Homo sapiens: one gene and its partners. The protein of the gene in region 1 purifies or fractionates together with the protein of each later gene. This does not show direct contact. Each region holds a gene or a part of one and is shown on either strand. Other genes may lie near its edges.

Region 1 (7,758 bases):
CAGGACAGCTCATCTCAGTGACTGCAGGAGCTCCACGGGCAGCAGGGAGGGTCTTGATGCTGTCAGTCTTGACAGGCTGGCAGGTGCTGGAGCACACCCCCACCCTGTGGACTGAACACCCACTGTCCTGAGTTGCAGAAGCAAGATTTTGGCAGAGGAAAGAATTCCCATTTGGCCACCGGTTACAGAAGGGCTCAGAAAGTAAAGTGCTTTATGCCCAAGGAAGTGAAAGATCCAGAGACTTTGGCTGCCAAACATTTATGTATAGAAAGGACTCCTTTCATGGGGAAACTTAACCAATTTCGTGGGTTAATACTGCCTTTGGTTTCTCAATTAGTACTCTCCTTGTCCTCAGATTTGTTCTCAGAAAATAAAGGTGGAAAGTCTTTTTGTTGGCCTCTATAAATGATTGAATAATTAGCTCATAGCTAGAGAGGGTATTAGCTCTTGTTATTGGCTGAGGGCCAGAAGGATGGGCTGGGGTAATAGAAGCATTGCTTCCTGCAGGGAAGGGAGCGCATGACCCAGCCACAGTCTTGAGTCTCTGGAGACTTCATACAACTAAGGGTCATATGGGTGGTATTTAATACAATGGTATATTTCATTCAACGCCACTAATTTTTTTTCTCCCTTGCTAAGGCAAGAATGTTGTACACCAGTTATCTGTAACTCTTGAAGATCTATATAATGGAGTCACGAAGAAATTGGCCCTCCAGAAAAATGTAATTTGTGAGAAATGTGAAGGTAAAAATTAATTTTTGACTGAACCGCACAGTTCTGATCCCTTAGATTCAGAAACAATGCTTGTTTTATAGTTCAGGGAAAATAAGTTATCTTTTTTCAAATGCAAGGGTCAAGCAGAGATTACAAACAGGTGGCCTGAGGGCCACACTTCTTTGCCTGAATGAATGTTTTCTTTGGGCTGCACCTCTATTTGACATGTTGACAATTATTTCTTTTTATGTTTTTGTATTTTTTATTTTTATTATACTCTAAGTTTTAGGGTGCATGTGCACAACGTGCAGGTTTGTTACATATGTATACAGACAATTATTTTTAAAAATTAAAAATCAGACACTTGACCTCATCTAGGGGTTGGCAGACTTTTTCTGTAAAGAGCCAGATTTTAGGCTTTCCAGGCCATGGAGTCTTTTGTAGCTAGTTCACTCTGCCGTCATAGTACATAAATGAATGGACATGCCTATGTTCCAGTAAAGCTTTATTTACAAAACCAAGCAGTCTGGCCATGGTTTCTTGACCCCTGACTTAAATGTATATATAATTATTGTAATTTTTAAAAAACCTGAGTTTTCAAGAAAAGCCATGTCTGGTGACCCCAGCCTCACATTGTCCCACAGAGAGAATTGGCTGAGCTGGGTAGCTGCCACTATTGACAGAGCTTGTGTTGTCTAGATCGCCACAGCCCCAGCCTCCTCATTCATCTGTGGGCCTATGCGAGTTCCACCTGGGGTGGAAGAAAACACATTTGATGAAGCTAAAGTAATAAATTTGGATTGGTGCAGCCAAAATCACAAACGTTTGAGGTCAGATGTTAACATCTGGATGTTGTCTGCTTGGCTGGACTCCTCCAGACTCTTCTGCATTGTTTTTTATTATTGTAAATAGAATTCTAAGCCCATTGTCCAATGTGAGGGTTCCCTACCCTTCTGCCATGGCGCCCAGCAGGGACACTGGTAAGGGAAGAGCATGGCCCTCATTCCTGCCTCCCCTGACCCTGCAGGTGTTGGTGGGAAGAAGGGATCGGTGGAGAAGTGCCCGCTGTGCAAGGGGCGGGGGATGCAGATCCACATCCAGCAGATCGGGCCGGGCATGGTACAGCAGATCCAGACCGTGTGCATCGAGTGCAAGGGCCAGGGTGAGCGCATCAACCCCAAGGACCGCTGCGAGAGCTGCAGCGGGGCCAAGGTGATCCGTGAGAAGAAGATTATCGAGGTACATGTTGAAAAAGGTGAGGCTGCGCAGAGCTGGTGCTCCACACGGGCTGGAAATGCTGTCTGGGTGCTAATCGTGAGATACACAGACTAGATGTCAGGGAAGTGAGCTGTATCACAACATGTATTGGGTGTGCCATGAATTCCTCTTGTTTCCCAGTCTTCTCTTCACCCTTCCTGGCCTTATTTCCATTCCATGTCACCTGCCAAAGTGTTCTTGCTGAGGTTTACTTCCTTGAGATCACAGACAGCCTCTTTATGAGGTTTTCTAACGCTCTGAAAGTCTTACCTGGCCTTGGTTTGGGTTAGTTGCCATCTCCTGACATTCTCAAGCCATTCCTCTAGAATCTTTCGGAGTGTCTTCCTGGTCGCTTCTGATGCTCATTGGCCATAAGGGCTTGTGTAAGTGTTTGTGGCTGCATGTTCCCTTTCTCCACATTTCCCCATGTGCTGCATCAGATTCCCCCAAATACAGCACCTTCTCCTGCTATTCATTTTGCCTGATGCCATCATTTTAAGGCCTTTTTCCATTTTAGCTGTCCTCCAAGTATTCCGATGATTCTGTGGCTTTCCAATCCAGTAAATATATCCTAGATCAGAGATGAGACCAAAAGTAAAAGAATCAACAGCCAAACCGACACAGGTGTTATTAAAGGACTTACTGTTTAAACATGCCTAAACCCTGTGCCTTGAGTGTGCAAGCTGACTTATTAGAAAAGGACAGGGCTGGCTGACCTGTCCCTATCAGTCCCAAGTCATGCACCCTGTGCCCCGGGAAGTGGGCGGTGACCCTATGCTGGTGGTGTGGCATCACAGGCCCTGGGCAGGGAGTGCTGTGTAAACCTGGGATGTAGAGCCGCATTCCCCCACTCCCTGTGCATGCTGGGCTTGGCCCCACATTATGCCAAGGGAAGCGGGACCTCTTCTGTCATTGGCCATCCTAGCCACCCCTCCCTGCCTTGTGCCTGCATGAGGTTGGGAGACTTGATGAATAAAGAATCCCTGAAGGACTCTGTTCCTTCTTCAAAAGCTTTAAGGAAGCATGGTTTGTATGAGAAATGGCTAATCAGAAAGGGATGATGTTTCATAGGTATGAAAGATGGGCAAAAGATACTATTTCATGGAGAAGGAGATCAGGAGCCTGAGCTGGAGCCTGGTGATGTCATAATTGTGCTTGATCAGAAGGATCATAGTGTCTTTCAGAGACGAGGCCATGACTTGATCATGAAAATGAAAATTCAGCTTTCTGAAGCTCTTTGTGGCTTCAAGAAGACGATAAAAACATTGGACAATCGAATTCTTGTTATTACATCCAAAGCAGGTAATGTTTCAAAGTGTGTTTCCATTGATGTTCTGTATGTTTGGCATAATAATTCTGGCAAGTTAGCCTGATTTTTTTATTGCTACATAATATTTTACATATTGATGGGGTGCATGTGATACTTTGTCCCTTGCATAAAATGGGTAATGATCAAGCCACGTGTTTAGGGCATCTGTCGCCTTGAGTATTTATTTCTTTGTGTTGGGAATAGTTCCCCTGATTTCACATTTAAGGTCAAATTCTGTTACACAAATTAGTATGATGTGATTTTCTCTAAATTTAAAACTGTCCCTAATAACTCTGGATAATTTATAAAGTTCTTGTATATTCTCCTAGAAAAAATATTCAGTTGGGGGGAAAGTCTCAAATAAGAATCTTGGGGCTCTGAATTTTAGATGAATTCTGGCAATTAAACTTAAGTTTTTAAAAATTTATTTTTGTATAAGAAAACAGCTTAATAGGTGGTGTTTTTCTATCAAGTGGTGATTTGTGCTGATTCATCCACATGTTCCTGTAGCCTCTGTTGTTCATTACATGAGTTACATTTTAAAATAGAATTTTCCTGTAAGAAAGACTTTGCCTATCAGTTTATCCTTGGAGGTTTCCACAGGAATTGCTGGTCTGCACACACCCATGGGAGCCAGAGGGAGATGCCTCTAGGCCGAAAGGGTTCCTGAGGCCTGAGCTCAGCCCCCAACCCCCCTGTAGACACCAGGGCACTCATCTCCCAGGAGGGTTGGTGTGTTCACTGTAGTTGAGGGTTTGTGTGGGCACCAGAGCACCTGCCTAGAAGGGGCTGAGAAGGGAGAGAGGCCAGGCCAGGGACCTTGACTTGAAGCTGCTTCTGAATAGCACTAAGGTCAGCTGTGCATAGCAAAGAATGTCTGGATGGGTGTGGTGGCGGCTACGCCACCGAAGCAGCCTGGGCCCCAGCACCAGCCATTTGCAGTGTTGCTGTAGTCCCCTCACTGGCCGTGGGGCTGGGATTACCTTTTTCTATGGCCATTTGAGGTTTGGTGCAAAAGGGGTAGGTTCAGGGCAGGCAGGGAGGTAACCACCAATAAGCCTGCCCCCAGGGCAGTGGCAGCTGGAGATAAGACTCAAGTCTGGTGGGGTGACTGAGGCCTGGACTTCTGTTCCCTCCGTGTCCCTCTCCCCCTTCCCCTCCTTGTCTGCTTTTCTCTTCCCAGCCTTGTGCTCTTTTTCTCTTTCCTCTCTTGGATTCTTTCAGGTTCCTCCTTTCCTGGGGATAGTAGGAAGCAGAATTATATATCCAAGCCTTGATCGGTTTGTGGAGTTTTAAAATAAACTTATTTGGAAACAATTTCAAGCTTACAAGAAGTTGTAAATATAAAAATAGTCCGAGGCCCATCCATATATGATTTGTCTGATGTTAACATTTTACCCCATTTGGTTTGTCATTTGATCTGTGTCTGTTTTTATTTATTTTTAAAATTTGTTCATTTATTTTTTGAGACAGGGGTCTTGCTCTGTCGCCCAGGCTGGAGTGCAGTGGCGTGATCTCAGCTCGCTGTAACCTCCACCTCAGCCTCCCGAGTAGCTGGGACAGCCACATGCCACCACGCCCATCTAATGTTTGTACTTTTTGTAGAGACGGGGTTTCGCCATGTTGCCCAGACTTGTGTGTGTTTTTATACATATACTTAATCCAGGATTGGGGGAAGCACTGCAGTATAATGCAAAATTTGCATGAAAATTTAAAATAAAACACCTTCCCTTAGGCTTCCATAGACCTCCCAAGGCACCCATTTCCTCCCTCAAGGAGGAGTTTGAGGATCACAGTTTACACGAAGCTCCAGACCACTGGTTGTGAGCTCAACACCCTGGCATTGTGTCCAAGATGCCCTTACGTGGTCACAGCCCAGATCCTAGCCCTCCTGAGCCGGGGCTGGGAAGCATCTGTGTGTAACTTCTTTGGGAAAGCCTGTCCTGTCCAGGGGTGGACTATTTGAGGTCCTGGGCCCCACCAAGAGCCAGCGTTCCTTGCTGTCTCAGCTGACCCCAGCCTAGGGAGCCGGGAGCCAAATGGAGTGAGGGTGGTGGAGAAAGAGCCCCAGAGGGAAGGAAGTGGCAAATCCCAAGAAATCCATTTCCTTCTTTATTATAAGGAAGGGTGGAGCATCCAGGAAACCTGCCGTTGGAGAGTTCTTTGGGGATTTGTTTGTCCTTTTTGTTTTGTTTTTGTTTTTACTTTGTTCTCTTTTGCACCCTCTCTTTTCTTCACCCCTCTTTTGTGTTGGCTTATTTCTTGTTTCTCCATTTTCTCTTCTCCCTCTTCTTCCTCTTTTCTGCTGTTGAAATGCCTTCTTCCCCAGAGCCTTTTAGCCTGTTATGAGCATTGCTGAGGATTGGATTAATTAAAAAAGTGATTTTGGAGCCACACAAGGGTGTGATGGCCCTGCCTGCAGGCAGGTATTTACCTGCCGGGAGAGCCTAACTCGTGGTCTTCTTCTCTTACCTGTAGTTTTCCATGCTTGGTCAGTTTCCCAGCTCCCAGCAAGCTAGAAGCAGAAGCATGGGGAGTAGGGCTTGAGAGCAGCAAGAAGCGACACCTGATAGGAATGGGGAGACAGAAAAACCAGTCATATGTAACTTAACGAAGGGGATATGTTCTGAGAGATGCATTGTTTGGCGATGTCGTTGTGGTGTGAACACCATAGAATGTACTCACACAGACCTAGATAGCATAGCCTGCTACACCCTAGGCTGTGTGGCATAGCCTGTTGCTCCTGGGCTAAAACCTGCACAGCAGGTTGCTGTACTGAATACTGTGGGCAGTTGTAGTACGATGCTGAGTATGTGAGTATCTGAACATAGGAAAGGTGCAGTAAAAGTTTGGTGTAATCTTTGCAACCATCTTCATAAATGTTGTTGACTGAAAGGTCACTATGCTGTGCATGACTGTATTTCTTTTTTTTTTGAGACGGAGTCTCGCTCTGTCGCCCAGGCTGGAGTGCAATGGCGTGATCTTGGCTCACTGTACACTCTGCTTCCCGGGTTCACGCCATTCTCCTGCCTCAGCCTCCCAAGTAGCTGGGATTACAGGCACACACCACCATTCCTGGCTAGTTTTTCTATTTTTTTTTTTTTTTTTTTTTTTTAGTAGAGACGGGGTTTCACTATGTTGATCAACCTGGTCTCGAACTCCTGACCTCGTGATCCGCCCGCCTCGGCCTCCCAAAGTGCTGGGATTACAGGCGTGAGCCACCGTGCCTGGCCATGACTGTATTTCAAAAAAAAAGAATAAACAGGAACACAAAAAGCCAGCAGCCTGGAGCAGTTTAGCTAAGGGGTTGCTGTCCTGCACAGTCAGTAGGCTCTGAAGGCCATGTCTGAACCACAGCCCTGCCTGCGAATGAATCTCAAGGATAGTCATTGGCTTACTTTATTTTTAAAACCTCCTCTTTAAAGATTTCCTCTTGAAGAGACAGCTCACTTTCTACATAGTCCCGTATGGAAGTGGACTGCTGAAGAAATTAGTGTTTCCATTCCCCTCCACCGTCTCCCCCATTTTTTCCGAACATTTCTTTCTGTCTTTGTCCATTTTCATCGCTGAGCTGAAGAGCATGCTTTATCAGAAACCCTTTTGTCCCTTTCCTTTTCCATGCTTAGAGGGAAGTTTCTGACTTGGGAGAACGCCTTAGAGTTCTTGGGGTCTGAACTCCTCTGATGCCTTCCAAAGTCACGTAGCTGTAAGACCCAGCGGGTGCCAGCCGGGAGGGTGACTCCAGCTCAGCAGCATGTATGGAAGTGCATTGTGACCATGAAGGAGTCTGCCAGTGGCCAAGCCACCTAGTGAGCTCCCTACCAAGGAACCTGGGTGTCACCTGCAGGTGGCCAAGAGCCAGTTTTTATGCCAGGCAGGGGACTGGTTGGACTCTATTGAGGCTTCTTCCTGTCTGTGGGGAGCACTCCTGTCCCCCTCGTGGTAGGGATACCTGTCACCCCACAAAGAGGCAGGGTGACAGGTGTTGGCCCCATTTTAGGCAGACTTGGGTGTCATGACTTCTAGTTCACTTGTTTTAAACCTACCTGTGATGGCAGCTGCACCATGCTGCCCTCTTGACACACTGCTGGAGCCCAGAGCACAGGCCAGAGTCTCAGCCTGAGCCCCTTCCCCAGGCAGTACCTGACAAGGATACCTGGGATTGGGGCCAGCTTTCCAGTCAGATGCCACGTTTCCTTTGCCCACTGCCACGGGGCACTAGGGCCTGCCGCAGGCTCTCCCATGAGGGAGAACGACCTCTGCAGGCCCCTCTGCCTTCCTCCTTCCTAATTGACCCTTTCTCTGGCAGGTGAGGTGATAAAGCACGGGGACCTGAGATGCGTGCGCGATGAAGGAATGCCCATCTACAAAGCACCCCTGGAAAAAGGGATTCTGATCATACAGTTTTTAGTAAGTTCACTATGTTTCATTGTCATGGACATATTATTAAATGCCTTAATTGGAAGGGGAAAAAACAG
Region 2 (7,758 bases), on another chromosome or scaffold:
AGTTTATTCTGCAGGCAGAAGAGAACCATCAGGGGGTCTTCAGCATGGGAATGGCATGGTGCACCTGGTTTTTGTGAGATCATGGTGGTGACAGTGTGGGGAATGTTATTTTGGAGGGACTGGAGGCAGACAGACCGGTTAAAAGGCCAGCACAACAGATAAGGAGGAAGAAGATGAGGGCTTGGACCGAAGCAGAGAAGAGCAAACAGGGAAGGTACAAATTCAAGAAATATTGGGGGGTTTGAATCAACACATTTAGATGATTAATTAAATATGAGGACTGAGGAATAAGAAATGAGTCAAGGATGGTTCCAGGCTGCTAGGCTGCTTACCTGAGGTGGCAAAGTCGGGAGGAGTGGCAGTTTAGGACAGGGGGCAGTTGAGGAATATTGTTTTGATCATTTTGAGTTTGAGGTACAAGTTGGACACTTAGGTAAAGACTGGAGGGGAAATCTGAATATACAATTATGGGACTGAGGAACAAGTTTATTTTATTTTTTGTTTCGTTTTCTTGTTGAAGAACAAATTTAATTGTAATCCCAAGTCATCAGCATCTAGAAGACAGTGGCAGGAGGTGACTGTCTTGTGGGTAAGGGTTTGGGGTCCTTGATGAGTATCTCTCAATTGGCCTTAAATATAAGCAGGAAAAGGAGTTTATGATGGATTCCAGGCTCAGCAGGGCTCAGGAGGGCTCAGGCAGCCAGCAGAGGAAGTCAGAGCATCTTCTTTGGTTTAGCCCAAGTAATGACTTCCTTAAAAAGCTGAAGGAAAATCCAGAGTGACCAGATTATAAACTGTACTCTTGCATTTTCTCTCCCTCCTCTCACCCACAGCCTCTTGATGAACCGGAGGAAGTTTCTTTACCAATTCAAAAATGTCCGCTGGGCTAAGGGTCGGCGTGAGACCTACCTGTGCTACGTAGTGAAGAGGCGTGACAGTGCTACATCCTTTTCACTGGACTTTGGTTATCTTCGCAATAAGGTATCAATTAAAGTCGGCTTTGCAAGCAGTTTAATGGTCAACTGTGAGTGCTTTTAGAGCCACCTGCTGATGGTATTACTTCCATCCTTTTTTGGCATTTGTGTCTCTATCACATTCCTCAAATCCTTTTTTTTATTTCTTTTTCCATGTCCATGCACCCATATTAGACATGGCCCAAAATATGTGATTTAATTCCTCCCCAGTAATGCTGGGCACCCTAATACCACTCCTTCCTTCAGTGCCAAGAACAACTGCTCCCAAACTGTTTACCAGCTTTCCTCAGCATCTGAATTGCCTTTGAGATTAATTAAGCTAAAAGCATTTTTATATGGGAGAATATTATCAGCTTGTCCAAGCAAAAATTTTAAATGTGAAAAACAAATTGTGTCTTAAGCATTTTTGAAAATTAAGGAAGAAGAATTTGGGAAAAAATTAACGGTGGCTCAATTCTGTCTTCCAAATGATTTCTTTTCCCTCCTACTCACATGGGTCGTAGGCCAGTGAATACATTCAACATGGTGATCCCCAGAAAACTCAGAGAAGCCTCGGCTGATGATTAATTAAATTGATCTTTCGGCTACCCGAGAGAATTACATTTCCAAGAGACTTCTTCACCAAAATCCAGATGGGTTTACATAAACTTCTGCCCACGGGTATCTCCTCTCTCCTAACACGCTGTGACGTCTGGGCTTGGTGGAATCTCAGGGAAGCATCCGTGGGGTGGAAGGTCATCGTCTGGCTCGTTGTTTGATGGTTATATTACCATGCAATTTTCTTTGCCTACATTTGTATTGAATACATCCCAATCTCCTTCCTATTCGGTGACATGACACATTCTATTTCAGAAGGCTTTGATTTTATCAAGCACTTTCATTTACTTCTCATGGCAGTGCCTATTACTTCTCTTACAATACCCATCTGTCTGCTTTACCAAAATCTATTTCCCCTTTTCAGATCCTCCCAAATGGTCCTCATAAACTGTCCTGCCTCCACCTAGTGGTCCAGGTATATTTCCACAATGTTACATCAACAGGCACTTCTAGCCATTTTCCTTCTCAAAAGGTGCAAAAAGCAACTTCATAAACACAAATTAAATCTTCGGTGAGGTAGTGTGATGCTGCTTCCTCCCAACTCAGCGCACTTCGTCTTCCTCATTCCACAAAAACCCATAGCCTTCCTTCACTCTGCAGGACTAGTGCTGCCAAGGGTTCAGCTCTACCTACTGGTGTGCTCTTTTGAGCAAGTTGCTTAGCCTCTCTGTAACACAAGGACAATAGCTGCAAGCATCCCCAAAGATCATTGCAGGAGACAATGACTAAGGCTACCAGAGCCGCAATAAAAGTCAGTGAATTTTAGCGTGGTCCTCTCTGTCTCTCCAGAACGGCTGCCACGTGGAATTGCTCTTCCTCCGCTACATCTCGGACTGGGACCTAGACCCTGGCCGCTGCTACCGCGTCACCTGGTTCACCTCCTGGAGCCCCTGCTACGACTGTGCCCGACATGTGGCCGACTTTCTGCGAGGGAACCCCAACCTCAGTCTGAGGATCTTCACCGCGCGCCTCTACTTCTGTGAGGACCGCAAGGCTGAGCCCGAGGGGCTGCGGCGGCTGCACCGCGCCGGGGTGCAAATAGCCATCATGACCTTCAAAGGTGCGAAAGGGCCTTCCGCGCAGGCGCAGTGCAGCAGCCCGCATTCGGGATTGCGATGCGGAATGAATGAGTTAGTGGGGAAGCTCGAGGGGAAGAAGTGGGCGGGGATTCTGGTTCACCTCTGGAGCCGAAATTAAAGATTAGAAGCAGAGAAAAGAGTGAATGGCTCAGAGACAAGGCCCCGAGGAAATGAGAAAATGGGGCCAGGGTTGCTTCTTTCCCCTCGATTTGGAACCTGAACTGTCTTCTACCCCCATATCCCCGCCTTTTTTTCCTTTTTTTTTTTTTGAAGATTATTTTTACTGCTGGAATACTTTTGTAGAAAACCACGAAAGAACTTTCAAAGCCTGGGAAGGGCTGCATGAAAATTCAGTTCGTCTCTCCAGACAGCTTCGGCGCATCCTTTTGGTAAGGGGCTTCCTCGCTTTTTAAATTTTCTTTCTTTCTCTACAGTCTTTTTTGGAGTTTCGTATATTTCTTATATTTTCTTATTGTTCAATCACTCTCAGTTTTCATCTGATGAAAACTTTATTTCTCCTCCACATCAGCTTTTTCTTCTGCTGTTTCACCATTCAGAGCCCTCTGCTAAGGTTCCTTTTCCCTCCCTTTTCTTTCTTTTGTTGTTTCACATCTTTAAATTTCTGTCTCTCCCCAGGGTTGCGTTTCCTTCCTGGTCAGAATTCTTTTCTCCTTTTTTTTTTTTTTTTTTTTTTTTTTTAAACAAACAAACAAAAAACCCAAAAAAACTCTTTCCCAATTTACTTTCTTCCAACATGTTACAAAGCCATCCACTCAGTTTAGAAGACTCTCCGGCCCCACCGACCCCCAACCTCGTTTTGAAGCCATTCACTCAATTTGCTTCTCTCTTTCTCTACAGCCCCTGTATGAGGTTGATGACTTACGAGACGCATTTCGTACTTTGGGACTTTGATAGCAACTTCCAGGAATGTCACACACGATGAAATATCTCTGCTGAAGACAGTGGATAAAAAACAGTCCTTCAAGTCTTCTCTGTTTTTATTCTTCAACTCTCACTTTCTTAGAGTTTACAGAAAAAATATTTATATACGACTCTTTAAAAAGATCTATGTCTTGAAAATAGAGAAGGAACACAGGTCTGGCCAGGGACGTGCTGCAATTGGTGCAGTTTTGAATGCAACATTGTCCCCTACTGGGAATAACAGAACTGCAGGACCTGGGAGCATCCTAAAGTGTCAACGTTTTTCTATGACTTTTAGGTAGGATGAGAGCAGAAGGTAGATCCTAAAAAGCATGGTGAGAGGATCAAATGTTTTTATATCAACATCCTTTATTATTTGATTCATTTGAGTTAACAGTGGTGTTAGTGATAGATTTTTCTATTCTTTTCCCTTGACGTTTACTTTCAAGTAACACAAACTCTTCCATCAGGCCATGATCTATAGGACCTCCTAATGAGAGTATCTGGGTGATTGTGACCCCAAACCATCTCTCCAAAGCATTAATATCCAATCATGCGCTGTATGTTTTAATCAGCAGAAGCATGTTTTTATGTTTGTACAAAAGAAGATTGTTATGGGTGGGGATGGAGGTATAGACCATGCATGGTCACCTTCAAGCTACTTTAATAAAGGATCTTAAAATGGGCAGGAGGACTGTGAACAAGACACCCTAATAATGGGTTGATGTCTGAAGTAGCAAATCTTCTGGAAACGCAAACTCTTTTAAGGAAGTCCCTAATTTAGAAACACCCACAAACTTCACATATCATAATTAGCAAACAATTGGAAGGAAGTTGCTTGAATGTTGGGGAGAGGAAAATCTATTGGCTCTCGTGGGTCTCTTCATCTCAGAAATGCCAATCAGGTCAAGGTTTGCTACATTTTGTATGTGTGTGATGCTTCTCCCAAAGGTATATTAACTATATAAGAGAGTTGTGACAAAACAGAATGATAAAGCTGCGAACCGTGGCACACGCTCATAGTTCTAGCTGCTTGGGAGGTTGAGGAGGGAGGATGGCTTGAACACAGGTGTTCAAGGCCAGCCTGGGCAACATAACAAGATCCTGTCTCTCAAAAAAAAAAAAAAAAAAAAGAAAGAGAGAGGGCCGGGCGTGGTGGCTCACGCCTGTAATCCCAGCACTTTGGGAGGCCGAGCCGGGCGGATCACCTGTGGTCAGGAGTTTGAGACCAGCCTGGCCAACATGGCAAAACCCCGTCTGTACTCAAAATGCAAAAATTAGCCAGGCGTGGTAGCAGGCACCTGTAATCCCAGCTACTTGGGAGGCTGAGGCAGGAGAATCGCTTGAACCCAGGAGGTGGAGGTTGCAGTAAGCTGAGATCGTGCCGTTGCACTCCAGCCTGGGCGACAAGAGCAAGACTCTGTCTCAGAAAAAAAAAAAAAAAAGAGAGAGAGAGAGAAAGAGAACAATATTTGGGAGAGAAGGATGGGGAAGCATTGCAAGGAAATTGTGCTTTATCCAACAAAATGTAAGGAGCCAATAAGGGATCCCTATTTGTCTCTTTTGGTGTCTATTTGTCCCTAACAACTGTCTTTGACAGTGAGAAAAATATTCAGAATAACCATATCCCTGTGCCGTTATTACCTAGCAACCCTTGCAATGAAGATGAGCAGATCCACAGGAAAACTTGAATGCACAACTGTCTTATTTTAATCTTATTGTACATAAGTTTGTAAAAGAGTTAAAAATTGTTACTTCATGTATTCATTTATATTTTATATTATTTTGCGTCTAATGATTTTTTATTAACATGATTTCCTTTTCTGATATATTGAAATGGAGTCTCAAAGCTTCATAAATTTATAACTTTAGAAATGATTCTAATAACAACGTATGTAATTGTAACATTGCAGTAATGGTGCTACGAAGCCATTTCTCTTGATTTTTAGTAAACTTTTATGACAGCAAATTTGCTTCTGGCTCACTTTCAATCAGTTAAATAAATGATAAATAATTTTGGAAGCTGTGAAGATAAAATACCAAATAAAATAATATAAAAGTGATTTATATGAAGTTAAAATAAAAAATCAGTATGATGGAATAAACTTGAGAGTCCAGAAGTTATCCCATACATCTGTAATCAACTAATTTCTCACAAGGGTGTAAGGACCATTCAATGGAGAAAAAATGATCTTCTCAACAAATGGTGCTGAGCTAATTGGATATTACATGCAAAGGAATGAATTTGAGTCTCTACTACACACCATATATAAAAATTAATTAAAAATTCATCAAATACCTAAATATTAGAGACTAATTTATAAACCGTAGAGAGAAACATAGGTAAAAATGTTTATGGCTTTAGATTAGGCAACAGCTTCTTAATTATGACATCAAAAGCACAAGCAACCAAAGACAAAAATAAATAAGTTGGACTTCATCGAAATTAAAAATCTTTGTGCATCAAAGGACACTTAGTAAGAAAGTGAAAAGACAACCCACAGAAGTGGGAGAAAACACTTGCAAATCATATATCTGATAAGGGTTGTGATATTATGATATATATATAGGTTTTTGTCCATAGTTCCTGGCTTATAAACCCCCTCACCCTTGTTACAGTCATTTGTTATAAGGTTGGATGGTTTAGGCCTCAGAAGCAAAACTCTCTCTCTCACCTTCTCCAGCCCTCCTGTCTCTGGCACCTCATTCTTCCCTGAGGCCACATAGAAACTAGAATCTCTCTTCCACAAGGCGGTCAAAGAAACCAGCACCTCCTTTCCCCCAAACCAGTCATAAAACCTAAAAATATTACTCTAATTCCCCCTCCTTTCCATATAAGCACTGGCTATAAGGAAATAATCTGACTGGGCATGATGGTTACGCCTGTAATCCCAGCATTATGGGAGGCCGAGGCAGGCAGGTGCCCTGAGCCTTGGAGTTCAAGACCAGCCTGGGCAACACAGTGAGACCCCATCTCTAAAAAACTTAGCCAGGCATGGTAGCACACATCTGTAGTCCCAGCTACTCTTAAGGCTGTCTCAAAAACAAAAAATAAACAAAAAACTGACCTATCTTGTTGGATTGTAGATCACGAGACCCTCATTCCAGACAGGGTCCTGCCCATATCCTGGGTGAAGGAATGCTGCACAGAGAGGCCAAGAAGAATCTGAACAGACACGCCTTACTGGGTTTCCCCAGTCTATCAGCATTAGATCATATCCTTTTTTCTTTTTCTTTTTTGAGACAGAGTCTAGCTCTGTCACCCAGGCTGGAGTGCACTGGCGCGGTTTCAGCTCACTACAACCTTCGCCTCCTGGGCTCAAGCAATTCTACTGCCTCAGCCTCCCGAGTAGCTGGGACTACAGGTGCCTGCCACCACGCCTGGCTAATTTTTGTATTTTTAGTAGAGATGGGGATTCACCAAATTGGTTAGGCTGGTCTCGAACTCCTGACCTCGGGTGATCTGCCCACCTTGGCCTCCCAAAGTGCTGGGGTTACAGGCGTGAGCCACTGTGGCCGGCCTTGATCATATCCTTTTTTCTAATCACAATTTTACAGGTTGTCCACGCTTCAGTTATGCCTATCCAATGAAGTCTCCATAAAGCCCAAGAAGACAGGGTTTAGGGAGCTTTCAGAGAGCTAAACACAAGAAGGTAAACAAAAACTCACCCATGTCTACAGTGCAGGTCTACAGAAAAATACAAAAACAAAAACAAAAAAAATCCAAACTCATCTGTGTCCTGGGAGGGTGGCATACCAGAACTCGGGGGGGATAGAAGTTTCTGTGCTCAGGACCCTTCCAGACCTTGCCCTATGTATCTCTTCATCTGGCTGTTTATTTGTGTCATTATCCTTTGTAATAAACCAGTAAACATAAGTATTTCCCTGAGTTCTGTGGGCAGTCCTAATGAATTAATCAAACCCAACAAAGGTCATGGGAACCCCAACTTGAAGTAACTGGTCAGCAGTTCCAGAGGCCTGGACTTGTGACTGGTGGGAGGGTGGGGATGATCTTGTGGGACTGAACCCTCAACCTGTGGGATCTGAAACTATGTCCAGGTAGATAGTATCTGAATTGAACTGGAAGATACCCAGCTTGTGCCTGCTGCAGAATAGATTGCTTGCATTGATTACAGAAGTGTTCTGTGTTGACTGTTGCTGTGGTATGAGAACAGAGGGAAAAACAG
Region 3 (7,582 bases), on another chromosome or scaffold:
GGACCTCTCTGGGAATCTTTCGGACCCTCTCCCTCCCACCTCCCCCAACATTCCAGTTCCTTCTTTTCCTTCTACTCTTCAGCGGCCTCAGCCTGCGCACCCCAGGAGCGTGGATGACTACGGCCACCCCGGGCGCGCACCCCTTTCCCACCACCCCAGCATCTCTGCAGCCCAGGACACCCGCCTCCCCCACACCCCGCATCCGGTGTGTCTCCGCCTGGCCCGGCCGGCGCGGCAGGCGGGCCAGGGGACCAACTGCACGGCCTCACCTGCTCTTCTCCACCATCCAGACGTTCAGCTACAGCTGGTGGGGGTGAGGGACTCTGCTCCGTGGCCGCCAGTGTGGGCTTCCCGGGCTAGCTCTGCGGCGAGGTGGGGGAGCCGAGTACGAGCCGGCAGAGGTGGGGCCGGCTGAGGGCGGAAGCGGCGGCGACGCGATTACGAAACCCGTCCGGCTCGGAGCCCGGCGCACTGCTCCCCTCTGGACTGCGGAGGCACTGCACTGCGCGGGACGTGGGAGGGTGCCTCTGCAGCCCCTCAAGGCCGCCGCCCCTGCGGGGAGAACTGGAGAATGCGGACACCTAGATGAGGCCCTGGCACCCAAGCTGGGGCCCCCGGAATCTCACGTTCCCTTTACTCGCCAGGCATTTCGGGGCAAAACGAAGCGGAGCCCCCCAAACCCCCAGACCTAACCAAGTTCAGAGATTCGCAGAAGCACGCCCCCCACCCCAAATTTATTGTGCTCTACCCAAAATGGAATAGGACTAGGTTTATTTACCCATTGTGAGGGTAGAGAGGCGAGTCTGGAGGAGCAGGGATTGGGAGAAGGGGTGGAAAAATACTCTGATTCTTAAAAATACTTTGTAACCTAAAGTCCTTAAATTGTGGAAGAAAGGAATACTCCTCCTTTCCATTGTAGTCTAGAGTTAAGATTTCAAATCCATAAATTAGAGGACCTAAAATTAGAGGGCAATTAACTGCTCATTCATTGGGCCCCCAGTCAGCACGGGGGTGCTGGAAGAGATCGGGAATAATAGCGCAGACCAATGAGCCTAGGGAGATGCTTTCATCGTCTCTCCTTCCCTCAAGTGTTCTGGAACCTATCATTTGAATTAGCCGAGTCAGGCAGGAGGGGGCGGGGAATCCTTCCGCCCTTCTTAGGAGGGGCTGCATTGCAGGGGGAGAGTGAACTGACAGACTCAGTCACTGAAGAGGGAAAAGGAGTGAGAAGACAAAGCCGTCAAAGCCCCAACAGCTTTGTATTTCTCCAGCCCGGCGCAGACCCCGGAGCTCCCGAGGCACTCCCTCCATCTTTGGAACACGCCAGTAATTGATTGATAACAGGTAAACCAAACTGAGGGAGGGGGCAGGGGGCTGCAAAGATAGAAGAGCGGCTGCTTATGGTTAGATTGAAAGACCCCACATGAGGTGGGGGACAGCTGAAGAGGAGAGAAGGGGGCGCTATGAACAATGGGTAGTTATTTCTTCACAGCATCCATGCCTTGTTACCTTATACAGACCATTAATCTCTAACAATTTACTTGTAGTTATTTCTCAGCACCTACCTCATTTCAAGTATCCTTTTCTGTAATTTATTGTCCTGTGTATTTAATATCTTCAGTCTACTTATCTTCCTTTTCAAACCATAATTTGTTTTACCAGCTGTTTAATTTTTAGTCCTACTGTATCTCTCTGTCCTCTACTTCCCTATACTTGCAATTTTTTTCTGTAGTGTTCTATGTTTCTCTGTAGGAGGGAGTTTGGGAGGGGGTTATATGGGATAATGTTGGGTGTAATCCTGACCTTTCTTTGGATAATCTCTTTCATTCCACCTCGAATCTTTGCTCCAAAGAAAGAGGCAGCCTAGGGTAGGAAAGGTGGGGGCCTCTGTGTTGGAGAACTGCCTGATTCCATAGTGAAATCAGTATAGCCCACAGGAGCTAGGTATGGGGACAGATTCTGGAAAAGAATGATTTGCAGCTCAGTGGAATTGGTGGAGGAATGCTAGTAGGAAAATCCAAGCTCTGACTGAGGCACACATTATGAGATGTCAGAGAGGTTCTGCTCCCCTCTACCACCACCACCACCTTGTCCTTCCCCCTTCCCCATGGTGGCAGCATGACACAGCAAGGCCCTGTTGAGTAGGCCTTGGATGCCCACAAAGGGTCTGGACAAAGGATATTTGGGCGTGTCTGTGTGGCTCCGAGAGTGTATCTTTCTAATCTATACATTTGCTAATCATGTATCTCTAAGAACAGAGTGATAATTAGATATTGCCTTTGCCTAAAATACCCGGATAATTTAAAGTGAAGGATAGTGGGAAGCATTTATTGAACATATATTGTGGTACAAGGCACTGTCAAAACCCTTTAAGTAAATGATACCATTTAAGATAATGAAAGATGTAAAGATAGATGAAGTAGGGCTGGAGAGCATTTGTGGAGGGGAAGGGGAAGCTAGCCAAAAAAGGATCTTTTGCGAAATTTGGAGTATTTGATAATTAAATCCATACTATATTAAATCAAAAATGTCATTACTACTTACATTAGTGAATAGCATTTTAACTTCAATTTTCTGTGTAGTATTACTTTATGTTCTTGACTTGATTTTAATGCCACGTATGTTTGCATGCATGTCTTTCTTGAATGTATTTGGTACCCTGTGTACATGTCTCTGGGTCAATGACATAGAGATTTTAGGCCTTTTGAGTTAATATTTCATAAAATTTGCTTTAGCTTTTTAAATTGCAAGATAGCTCTACCAAACACTCAGGGACTGTTTGAGCAGTTTTTTATACATACTCTGGTTGTAAGAAAAGGAGTCAGTTTGTCGAAGAGCTTTTTTTTTTTTCTCAGATTCTAGCTTGCTCTACTGCCCTTTGCTTTTCCCCATTCAGATCACAATTACAGGAACAATCACCTAAACCACGGAAAATCTATTCTTCAGCAACTAAAAATTCTTTTAAGTTTTGGGAATACTGGTATAGGGTTATATAAAGCTGTTGGCAACTATCCATGTACAACACAAAAAGGGATCAGATTGGGAATTATGAGATCTGGATTCTATACAAACTGGCTGGAAGTCTTCCCAAGTCATTAATTTCTAAGATGTCTTCTAGTTTTAAAATTCTATGATTTTTTCCCCCCATGATTCTATTTTTTTTTTTTTTTTAAGATGGAGTCTCGCTCTGTTGCCCAGGCTGGAGTGCAGTGGTGCAATCTTGGCTCACTGCAACCTCCACCTCCCCAGTTCAAGCGATTCTCCTGCCTCAGCCTCCCGAGTAGCTGGGATTATAGGCGCCTGCCACCACACCTGGCTAATTTTTGTATTTTTAGTAAAGACGGGGTTTCACTATCTTGGCCAGGCTGGTCTCGAATTCCTGACCTTGTGATCCACCTGCCTCGGCCTCCCAAAGTGCTGAGATTACAGGCGTGTGCCACCGCGCCTGGCCCCATGATTCTATTTTTTAAAGAGCCTATAATGTGGCCTGCATTATACTAAGCTCATTCTGGAGAAGACTTGTCAGGTAGGATAGAGAAAAGAACCCAGCTAGCTGTGAAAATAACTGGTAACAGTAAGAATCCCTGTAGCCACAAGTCCATAACAGTATTGACTCCTAGGTATGCTTCTTAGAATCTCTATAGTCCCAGATTTAAGCAGTGGGTGGTTGGTTAATGGATACAACCATTTTTTGTAGCTCTCTTTCTGCACACGTCTCTGCAAAGTACTATGGAGATTATCAGAGTTGAGTATCATAGGATGATGACCTCACCTTTCCAACATGCTCCCCGACCCTGCTGCAATCCCGGCATCACCCTCCTTCTAAGCAGCTTCTCTGCTGAGTAATGCTCAGTTCCCAGGGTTTATTTTGGAACTTAAACTAAGAAAAAGAACAACTCAGAATTCACTTTCAACATTAAAAACATCCTAGCCTACCCACTCACCATTCCTGAAGCCCCCACACTCTCACACATCACTGTGTTCTAGATTAACACTTTCTTTTTCTGCCTTAGTACAGTCATTTCACATTATACTGGAGCATTTTGGAACCTATTTAAGGCCATTATTTAGGAGTCTCTGGCCTGGTGAGACCCAATAGGGTGTGTTGGAGAAAGGCCTTTTGAAACTTGGGGTTCTGTTTTTGGAGGTGATAGAATGTTCTTTCTGCTCCTTTGGGAACATTTCAACTAATGCTTCTTTTTTTAATTTTTATTTATTTATTATTATTATTATTGAGACGGAGTCTTGCTCTTTCGCCCAGGCTGGAGTGCAGTGGCGCTATCTCAGCTCACCGCAAGCTCCGCCTCCCAGGTTCGCGCCATTCTCCTGCCTCAGCCTCCCAAGTAGCTGGGACTACAGGCGCCCACCACCGCGCCCGGCTTAATATTTGTACTTTTAGTAGAGACGGGGTTTCACCGTGTTAGCCAGGATGGTCTCGATCTCCTGACCTCGTGATCCACCCGCCTCGGCCTCCCAAAGTGCTGGGATTACAGGCGTAAGCCACCACGCCCGACCACAACTAATGCTTCTTGACCCTTGGCTAGTAAGTAGCAGGGTGGAGGCTGTAGGCAGCTCTAATAGTCCTAAAATATCAGGCAGGGCTTGGGTAGAATGAGTAGAGAAAGTGATAGATCCATTAACGCATGGAAGAGTATCTGATTCTGTTAAAATACCTTCTTCCAATCTGAACTTTACTTTAAATCCAAATGGATTTCCAATCCATTTGCTCTCATTATCATCAGTATACTCGAGCACTGGGATCAGAGAAAAGAGATCCCTGTTACAGCATAGGAAAGTTATTTATTTATTTATTTATTATTACTTTTTTTGAGATGGAGTTTCGCTCTTGTTGCCCAGGCTGGAGTGCAATGGCGAGATCTCGGCTCACTGCAACCTCCACCTCCCAGGTTCAAGCAATTTTCCTGCCTCAGCCTCCCAAATAACTGGGATTACAGGCATGCGCCACCTCGCCTGGCTAATTTTGTATTTTTAATAGAGACAGGATTTCACCATGTTGGTTGGGCTGGTCTTGAACTCCTCACCTCCTGATCTGCCTGCCTCGGCCTCCCAAAGTGCTGGGATTATAGGCGTAAGCCACTGCACCTGGCTAGGAAAGTTCTTTTAGCACCTAGGTTTTGTTCTGAAGGAGAGGTAGGCTAGAGAGAAATGGATTGTTAAGGCTTACCTGTGGGCTAATATAAGGGAATGGCAAGGTATTAATTAAATAGTGAGGGAAAGTTAATCAGCAGCCTTGAATGGCTTTGTGTACAAAGCCCACCACTTGTGTACAGAGAAAGTAGATTGGTCTTTACCCTTGGGGAAACTCCTAGGTATGGGGACAGATTCTGGAAAAGAATGATTATTTGCAATTCAGTGGAACTGGTGAGGGAATGCTAATAGGAAAATCCAAGCTCTGACTGAGGCACGCATGGTGAGATGCCAGAGAGCTTCTGCTCCCCTCTACCACCACCTTGTCCTCCCCCTTTCCCCATGGTGGCAGCATGACACAGCAAGGCCCTGTTGAGTAGGCCTTGGATGCCCACAAAGGGTCTGGACAAAGGATGTTTGGGCGTGTCTGTGTGGCTCCGAGAGAGTGTATCTTTCTAATCTACATATTTGCTAATCATGTATCTCTAAGAACAGAGTGATAATTAGATATTGCCTTTGCCTAAAATACCTGGATAATTTAAAATGAAGGATAATGGGAAGCATTTATTGAATATATATTGTGGTACAAGGCACTGTCAACCCTTTAAGTAAATGATACCGTTTAAGATAATGATAGATGTAAAGATAGATGAAGTAGGGGTGGAGAGCATTTGTGGAGGGGAAGGGGAAGCTAGCCAAAAAAGGGGTCTTTTGCAAAATTTGGAGTATTTGATAATTAAATCCATACTATATTAAATCAAAAATTTCATTACTATTTACATTAGTGAATAGCACTTTAACTTCAATTTTCTGTGTAGTCTTATTTTATGTTCTTGACTTGATTTTAATGCCACATATGCTTGCATGCATGTGTTTCTTGAATGTATTTGGTACCCTGTGTACATGTCTCTGGGTCAATGACATAGAGGTTTTAGGCCTTCTGAGTTAATATTTCATAACATTTGCTTTAGCTTTTTAAATTGCAAGATAGCTCTGCCAAACCCTCAGGGACTATTTGAGCAGTTTTTTATTCATACTCTGGTTTTAAGACAAGGGGTCAATTTGTCAAAGAGCTTTTTGTTTTTCTCAGATTCTAGCTTGCTCTCTACTGCCCTTTGCTTTTCCCCATTCAGAAGGCAATAAGGCCATCCCTATACATAAAATACATTAACAGTGATCTGTAATCCCAAACTGATGGAGTTAGGTAAAACTCTACAGGGTGTTGGGGGAGATGCTGGAGGAAATAGAGTAGATGAAGCTGAGTAAAAGTTTAAGGAAGTCATCTGCAAGAGGTGAGTTTATAGTAGGATTTAGAAGGCAAGAAGGAAAATAGAAAGCAGAAAAGTCACGGAAGGTCTTTTCACACATACCATGAGCTATTAAACCAAAGTCAGGAGGAAGTCAAGTATTTTTAAGTATAATAGGAGTTTGGGCTAGGGGAACGGGGGTTCCTCTATAGACTTGGAGTTTTTTGTTTGTTTTGTTTTGTCTTTTTGTTTTTTGAGACAGGGTCTCACTCTATTCCCCAGGCTGGAGTGCAGCGGCACAATCTCAGCCCACTGGAACCTCTGCTTCCTAGGCTCAAGTGATTCTCCCACTCAGCCTCCCAAGTAGCTGGGACTACAGGCGTGCACCACCAGGCCCAGCTAATTTTTTGTATTTTTTGTAGACGGAGTTTTGCCATGTTGCCCAGGCAGGTCTGGAACTCCTAGTCTCAAGTCATCCGCCTGCCTTAGCCTCCCAAAGTGCTGGGAATACAGGTGTGAGCCACTGAGCTCTTGAATGGAGTCCTGAAATGTGGAAAGTCTTTTTTTTAAGACAGAATCTTGCTCTGTTGCCCAGGTTGGAAGGCTCACTGCAACCTCACCCTGCTGGATTCCAGCAATTCTCGTGCCTCAGCCTCCCTAGTAGCTGGGACCACAGGCACAAACCACCATGCCTGGCTAACATTTTGTATTTTTAGTAGAGGCAGGGTTTCCCCATGTTGGACAGGCTGGTCTCAAACTCCTGGCCTCAAGTGATCCACCCACTCTGCCTCCCAAACTTCTGAGATCACAGGCATGAGCCACCACACCTGGCTGAAATGCGGAAAGTATTTTAAGGTGGAGAATGGAGAGAGTTAAGCAAGACAGGAATGAGCATAACTGTAACAGAGGATATACCACTGCTGGGAAGAATGGGCTAGATTTTGGAAGGCCTTGAAAATCAGACCCAAGATCAATTTGATGCAATAGATGGTAAATAAGTCATTCCAAGATGGGAAGTTTAGAAAATAGTAGAAATTCGGCCGGGCGCGGTGGCTCACACCTGTAATCCCAGCACTTTGGGAGGCCGAAGCAGGCAGATCACGAGGTCAGGAGATCGAGACCATCCTGGCTAACATGGTGAAACCCCGTCTCTACTAAAAAATACAAAACATTGGCCGGGCGTGGTG
Region 4 (7,758 bases), on another chromosome or scaffold:
GAGTTAAATATGTTTATAAATTGCTTGCTTTGCTATTTTAGTTGATTTTGTATTTTTTTGGGAAGAAAACTCTAGCGGTTAGATAATGGGATAAAAGATGAAAAAGATGGTTGGAGTAAAAGGAAAAATGATGTTCGGGAGGAAAGAGGAATGTTTAGAGAAAAATTTCTAGAGAATAAGGCAGATAAAGAGTTGATAGTATGTGCCTGTAGTCCTAGTTACTTGGGAGCTGAGGCTGGAGGATCACTTGAGCCCAAGAATTTGTCGCTGCAGTGAGCTGTGATTGCTCCACTGTACCCCAGCCTGGGCGACAGAATGGGACCCTGCCTCTAAAAATATTAATAATTGGCTGGGTGTGGTGGCTCATGCCTGTAATCCCAGCACTTTGGGAGGTCGAGGTGGGTGGATCACTTGAGGCCAGGAGTTTGAGACTAGCCTGGCCAACATGGCAAAATCCTGTGTCTAAAAAAAAAAAAAAGAAAATTAGCTGGGTGTGGTGTGCATGCTTGTGATCCCAGCTACTCGGGAGGCTGAGGCGCTCGAACCTGAGAAGCAGAGGTTGCAGTGAGCCACTACACTGTAGCCTGGGCCACAGAGTGAGACTCCGTCTCAAAAAAAAAAAAAAAAGTTAATAATAATAATGGTTGATAGGATCCAGAGAGTTCTAGCTAGGGAAACCTGAGTCTAGGTTTCCTTGCCTCTGAAGGATTTAATGACAACTGATTTCCGAAGGAAGTCTACTGAAATATTCAAATGGAAGCAGTCGTAATTCACATTTATTTGTGATTTTCACAGTATTTTGATATACAGTTTCATTTAATTTTGGCTCTAAACTTATGATGTATGTAGAATGGGCAATTTGTTGATAATTTTACAGAAGATATTGTGATATGGTCCAGTAGAATTCATGTTTTACTGGGTTATTTTGTTTATGCTTTTTTAAGGAAATATAGTTTACATTTTTACATTCCCATAGACTATCCATTTTGAACTTAGTTCATTGTCCATGATATTTATGTATAATGTTGGTTTTGATATTTTTGTATATGTGAAAAGTCGATACGACTTTAGAGCAGCTCTAAGAAATATGCAAAGATACTTCCACCAGCCTTATTGATGAGCTCTTGGGTTTATGATTTGAAGAATACTATTGTGTTTCCTAAACCCTTATGGACTTTTTGATAAAATAGGAATGGTGAAGCCTCAACCTCCTGCCCTCTCACGGTATTTTTTCTTTCTTTCTTTCTTTTTCTTGATATGAGGATTTACTTTTAAGGCGGTGACATTTACAGAAGATAATTTCTTAAAAAAGGTTTTTGTTTAGAGACTGGGTCTCTCTCTGTTACCTAGACTGGAGTGCAGTGGTGCGATTGTAGCTCACTGTAACCTTGAACTCCTGGACTCAAGTGATCCTCCCATCTCAGCCTCCTGAGTAGCTGGGACCACTGGTGTGTTCCACCACACCCAGTTAATAATTTTAAACTTTTTATAGAGATGAGATCTTGCTTTGCTGCCTAAGCTGGTCTGGAATTACAGGCATGAGTCAATGTGCCCAGCTAAGAACATAATGTGGTTATTAGCAGAAAAAAGTATTTTGCCAATGTAGAACCTAGGTTTTATTTTTTTGACTACAAATTAGAATTGTTGATTAAGTATAAAAATCTGATAACAGAATATTCTCTTCAAATATGCTTCACTAGGAACAACCCTCCAATAGTAAATGCTATGTTTTCTTATTTTCAGTGTCTTAGAATTATATAATCGAAGGAGGTAAGAAAAGGGCCTTGTTATTATATATATCTCTTCCCCCATTAGAATTCATTTACAACATTTTTGGAGAAACTATTTTGTCACATCAGTTTTGTCACATTTAAATTGTATCAGATTTTAAAATAATATTTGCACTATATAAGTCATCACATCAATTGAGAATGTTTTATGTTGATAAATACGTAGATAAAAAATACGTGGAATGCAACAATGAATGTGCATAATTTATTCTTTCTTAAAGTCTAGTTCTTTTGTTCCTCAAGGTTTGTGTTTGGGATGCAGAACTACGGGAACTTCGAGCTGAATGTTTTATAAAAGAAGGAGAACCTAGGAAAGCTATAAGTGACTTAAAAGCTGCGTCAAAGTTGAAGAATGATAATACTGAAGCGTTTTATAAAATAAGCACACTGTACTACCAACTAGGAGACCACGAACTGTCCCTCAGGTCAGTTCTAGTGACACACATGTCTGATCTTTTTTAATTGTTGGCAGTAAGATTACCTCATCTTGTTTTAACATTTTAATATTAAATTAATAAGATGATGGTAGTTAAGGCTGTTTTTATATTGTATATCCATTTATATATTTTGTGTTATTCCCAAGTTACTTTAATTCCACATAGTTTGTTTTCATGAAGCTGCTTATTAAACAGGAAGGCTCTTATATTTATAGAAACAAAATGGAATGTTTACTATATAATGCTAGTAAGTCATTTTAATTTGAATTAACAAATGTATGCATGGTACAATGCCACGTATAAATGTATATAGTAAATTATAAGTCTCAGTATGGTTTTTGTTTAATCGTTGCAAACAAAAAATACTTTTATTGTGATTTCTGTGGAAAACTACTCATTGATTGTTTTGACATGGAGTATTTTCCTTTTTTAAATACATGAACAGTGAAGTTCGGGAATGTCTTAAACTTGACCAGGATCATAAAAGGTGTTTTGCACACTATAAACAAGTAAAGAAACTTAATAAGCTGATTGAGTCAGCTGAAGAGCTCATCAGAGATGGCAGGTGAGAATATGGTTGTTCCAACTGTCCAGCCATTCCTTATGTGCGGGGCTGTGGGCACAAGTGAACTACAGAACTGCTCTTTTACTTCTCAGCCATTGAGGGTGGGGTATTCTAGATAGCCCTGGGCCTTAGCAAAACTACCAGAATTGGACATTTTTGGAATAGGGAAGAATATAAATAATAGTAACTGTGTAGTATCCTTACCAGCAGAATTACTTGTACTATACCAAATATTTATTATCTCCTATATCAGGCTGAGCTATGTACTGAGGGTGCAGACTTAAACTTGACAATAGTTTTTGTTCTTAAGAAGTTTATAGCATTGCGTGGGAGACAAATATATGAATTGATTATTAAAAGACAATATGATACCAAAGTGATAGAATGTACATAGGATAATTGGAGTACCAAAGAGGAGTATTTACTCCAAACCAGGATGGTAAAGGCAAGGAGTAAAAGAGGAGCTTTTTTTTTTAGAGAAGGTGATAGATATTTAAATCCTAATCCTAAAGAATAAGTAAAAGTGGACAGAAGTAAGAGGCTGTGTCTGTGTGAGTGTTGTTTGTAGGGGGTTTATAGGCTGGGCAGGAGGACTGAAAAGAGTAGAGGGCACTGCAGACAAAACTGCCTAATAGAAAATAGGCTCCAATTCCTCTACTTTTAGTAGCTTTGTAAGTTGCCATCATGAGAATGCTTCACTCGGTTTCCCCCAACATCTTGCAGACTATAACGCCTTGCAAAACTATAGTACATTGTCACAATCAGGATATTGACGTGGGTGCAGTCAAGATACAGAATAATTCCATCCCAACAAGGACACCTCATGTTGCCCTTATAGCCACACCTACTTCCCTCTTGTTCCTATCCCTTCCTTAGCTTGTGGCAACCACTAATCTATTCACTTGTAGAATTCTGTCATTTTAAGAATGTTACATAAATAGAATCATACAATGTATAAACTTTTGGGATTGGCTTTTTTTTTTTTTGAGACAATCTCACTATGTTGCCCACCTGTTCACAGATACAGTCATAGTACACTCAAGTGATCCTTCTGCCTCAGCCTTCTGAGTAGCTGGGACTTCAGATGCATGCTACCACAGCTGGCAGGATGGGCTTTTTTCCCCCTCATTCGAATTGTCTGGAGATTTATCCATATTGTATCAATAATTCCTCCTTGTTTACTGTTGAGTAGTTTCCATGGTATGGATTTACTGCAGTTTGTTTAACCATTTATCCATTGAAGGACCTGAGGTTGGGAGTTTGAGACCAGCCTGACCAACACGGAGAAACCCTGTCTCTACTAAAAATACAAAATTAGCCGGGCGTGGTGGCGCATGCCTGTAATCCCAGCTACTGCGGAGGCTGAGGTGGGAGAATCGCTTGAACCCGGGAAGTTGAGGTTGCGGTGAGCCGAGATTGTGCCATTACACTCCAGCCTGGGCAACAAGAGCGAAACTCCGTCTCTAAAAAAAATGTTTTCTGTTTGCAAGTCTGTCCTTTTCAGGTCCTCTGGCTAGACAGAGCAGACTTCTGCAGGTTTTTGTTATTGTCGTTCTGTACCTGTTGGCGTTTCTGCATTGCTGGAATCTTCAGCTCCAAGTCTGGGATATATGAAACAAAAAAAAAGAACCCAGGGAACGTCTTACCATGTTTTCCTCAGGTCCTGAGTCACTAGCTAGTCTGTCTCTTTTCCTCCTTTGAAAGTTTTCTATTTTAAAAAATATACATATAATCTCTAGGGTTTTTTAGTTGTGCTTAGCTGGAGCACTTGGGACAAATACATCTATTCCACTTTCCCAGAAGCTGGCTTTTTTGTTTTCTTCTTTAAGTTCCAGGATGTATGTGCAGAATGTGGAGGTTTGTTACATAGGTAAACGTGTGCCATGGTGGTTTGCTGCACCTATCAACCCATTACTTAGGTATTAAGCCCCACATGCATTAGCTATTTGTCCTGATGCTCTCCCTCCCCTTGCTGCCTGCCCCACACAGGCCTCCGTGTGTGATGTTCCCCTCCCTGTGTCCATGTGTTCTCATTGTTCAGCTCCCACTTATGAGTGAGAATATGCAGTGCTTTGTTTTCTGTTCCTGCGTTAGTTTGCTGAGGATGATAGAGAAGCTGGCTTTTATTTTAAATGTTTTAGTTAAGCCTGTGTTTTAATACATTGGCATATTTACATATGAAGATTGTAGCACTTTGGGAATAGTGTGCCACCATGGCATAGAAACATATTTTTTACTTTACTATTGTTGAGGGAAATAACTGAGTATATAACAGGATTAGTACTTTTTACTGGTTTAAAGAAAATGCTGAAATAGCTTTTATTCTTAGAAAGCTTATACAGTTGGGAATTTAATCAGGTACCTTTTGTGTGAACTACGTTGTACTTTGTTGTAAATACTGACATTAATTATATAAAATGGCACGTAATGGGTTCCATTATTTTCATGGAAGTGTTTACTGACCAAGAAATAAAACTTGATCTCTGTATTGTTCAAGGTGCTCAGTGTAAGTCAGACTTCAACAGGGTGTTTTACTCAGGTTTGGAATTCTGAGCAATGTTTCTGTAAGGAAATTCTTCTGGTTTGATTGGTACTTATACTCACAGGTATGCTTTGTTCTGTCCATCTGCATCTCCTATGGTCATATGTTTTTATTTCCTAACTCTTAATTATGGAGTGTACCTTCTATGGGACTCTAGATTAATAAGGGAAAAGCCGAATCTGAAGCCATGGGCTCATCCAATTGGATTGATTAAGCAACACATGGTGAAGAGGGGAGGAGCCTTTCTACAGCTCTGGAAATCAAATGTCATCATTTCTTATCATGATTTGCTCATTTCTTAGATACACAGATGCTACCAGCAAATATGAATCTGTCATGAAAACAGAGCCAAGCATTGCTGAATATACAGTTCGTTCAAAGGAGAGGATTTGCCACTGCTTTTCTAAGGTAACAGTTGACTTGTTCCCAGAAATGTGAAAACTCAACATGTGGAATACCAACCATAAATCCTTGTCTCACATTTCCTTTTAGGACGAGAAGCCTGTTGAAGCTATTAGGGTTTGTTCTGAAGTTTTACAGATGGAACCTGACAATGTGAATGCCCTGAAAGATCGAGCAGAGGCCTATTTGATAGAGGAAATGTATGATGAAGGTAAATCTTTAAGGATTTGATTTGCAGTACCGAAGTGTTGATTAGGAAATTATCACATTTTAAGCTTCCTTTTCCTTAAAACAAATTTACCAGAGTACCTGGAAATGTTGACAATTTTAGAAAAATGGCAGAGAACTTGAAAATTACTCTTCCATAGTGGAACCTGAAAGGTATACCATGTGAGGAAAGAGTTCTGCCATTGAAACCAGTTCAGTACAATAGAAAAATAAATATTTTAGCTTTTTTTGTAGAAAGGAAAAAAAATAACAAAATAGAAAATTTAAATTGTAGCTCTCATGTTATCCGGAAGTAATCACTGTTCATTTTGCATTTATCTTTTCCAGCTTTTATCTATGCACATATATTACTCTATATTTTATGCACATATACATATTCTCTCTCTCTCTCTCTCTCTCTCTCTCTATATATATATATATATATACTCGGTGTGTATAAAACATAAATACAGAAAGCATACATACATGTCATATATCCCTAATATAAAATGATCCTCTGTGACCCCAAGCTGTTTAGTAACATAGGACAGCTGCTACCCTATTTTGTTCAAGCCAAATGAAATAACAAGAGATTCCTGCCAGATGTTGTGAGGTCCTTGGATAAAAGCAGTGTCCTGTTTTTGGAAGATAACTACGGCGTATACAGTAATATACAGTTTTTGAAAAATAGAATCCATATATATATATATATATATATATATATATATATATATACACACACACACATATATATATACATATATATATACACATATATATATATACATATATAATACATGTATATATATACATATATATATATAGTTTTGTGCCTTTTTTCATGTGACACTATGTTATGAACATTTAAATGATACAGGTTTTTAAAAAAATAAATGAGCCTTATAAGCCCTTATTGCAAATATTTTGTTTCAAATTCAGGTAAAGCATTTTAAATCAAAAACAGTAATTTTCTCTTACAGTTAAATGAAGGGTTCGAATGGTAAAATTTGGTTTGTGATACTCTTTTTAAGGCAAAACTGGTCAATCTCTTTTTCCCTGCTTTCCTCAATTAGAAAAGAATCTTGCTCCTAAGCAAGTTCCCAGTTTCCAGGGAATGATGACAACCTGGTCACTACTATTTGTGGGACATCTTGTGGGGGATTCAGACCTTGAGGTCTCTGAATGAGGCTTGAAATGAATGCAGTCAAAATGACACTTTAATATTTATAAGCATGCTTCAATAAGGCATGTAGTCCACATAGAAAATCCCTTTAGCATACTCGTTTTCTTTCCTTTTGAGCTACCGTGTCTACTCGGTGAGATGGTTTTACTCTAGGATTTGCATTCCAGTTAGCTTTTGGAACTCTTTATCAAAGATACTTTTGTCATCTGTATGTAAACCCTTAGCTCTCACTGCGAAATTAGAGAAGCTACAGAAGAATATAAAGAGCTTAGCTGTTAAAAAAAAAAAAAAAGGCTAAATCTTGTAGAATGCTAAGTGTAATTTGAAAGATGCATTTGGAACTTGAATGTTAAACTGACTTGCTTTTTGGGGAAACCTGATGGCTTAATTCTGGAAGAAAAAGATGCTTAGTGCTAATTTAATATAATTGATCTGTTTTTTTTTTTTTTTTTTTTTGGAAATGGAGTCTTGGTCTGTTACCCAGGCTGGAGTGCAGTGGCACAATCTTGGCTCACTGCAACCTCCACCTCCCAATTGCAACCAATTCTTCTGCCTCAGCCTCCTGAGTAGCTGGGATTACAGGTGTGCACCACCACGCCTGGCTCATTTTTGTACTTCTAGTAGTGATGGGG

The links.
Region 2: the proteins of DNAJA4 (region 1) and AICDA purify together in Homo sapiens (co-immunoprecipitation; one study listed by IntAct). This does not show direct contact.
Region 3: the proteins of DNAJA4 (region 1) and MLLT11 purify together in Homo sapiens (affinity purification with mass spectrometry; one study listed by BioGRID and IntAct). This does not show direct contact.
Region 4: the proteins of DNAJA4 (region 1) and DNAJC3 purify together in Homo sapiens (affinity purification with mass spectrometry, with the first as the bait; one large-scale study listed by BioGRID). This does not show direct contact.

Annotation. Positions count from the first base shown.
Region 1 is NC_000015.10:78,272,456-78,280,213, forward strand, and holds part of DNAJA4 (dnaJ homolog subfamily A member 4), read left to right. Parts: intron 1-639; coding exon 640-744; intron 745-1,202; exon of another isoform or gene 1,203-1,741; coding exon 1,742-1,969; exon of another isoform or gene 1,970-2,645; intron 2,646-3,042; coding exon 3,043-3,273; intron 3,274-5,752; exon of another isoform or gene 5,753-6,345; intron 6,346-7,589; coding exon 7,590-7,690; intron 7,691-7,758.
Region 2 is NC_000012.12:8,600,088-8,607,845, reverse strand, and holds the end of AICDA (single-stranded DNA cytosine deaminase), read left to right. Parts: intron 1-833; coding exon 834-981; intron 982-2,360; coding exon 2,361-2,631; intron 2,632-2,923; coding exon 2,924-3,039; intron 3,040-3,508; coding exon 3,509-3,562; 3' UTR 3,563-5,676; downstream 5,677-7,758. UniProt on the Homo sapiens protein: Single-stranded DNA-specific cytidine deaminase. Involved in somatic hypermutation (SHM), gene conversion, and class-switch recombination (CSR) in B-lymphocytes by deaminating C to U during transcription of Ig-variable (V) and Ig-switch (S) region DNA.
Region 3 is NC_000001.11:151,059,210-151,066,791, forward strand, and holds the start of MLLT11 (protein AF1q), read left to right. Parts: upstream 1-1,187; 5' UTR 1,188-1,344; intron 1,345-7,582. UniProt on the Homo sapiens protein: Cofactor for the transcription factor TCF7. Involved in regulation of lymphoid development by driving multipotent hematopoietic progenitor cells towards a T cell fate.
Region 4 is NC_000013.11:95,758,007-95,765,764, forward strand, and holds part of DNAJC3 (dnaJ homolog subfamily C member 3 precursor), read left to right. Parts: intron 1-2,033; coding exon 2,034-2,215; intron 2,216-2,672; coding exon 2,673-2,792; intron 2,793-5,636; coding exon 5,637-5,742; intron 5,743-5,826; coding exon 5,827-5,947; intron 5,948-7,758. UniProt on the Homo sapiens protein: Involved in the unfolded protein response (UPR) during endoplasmic reticulum (ER) stress.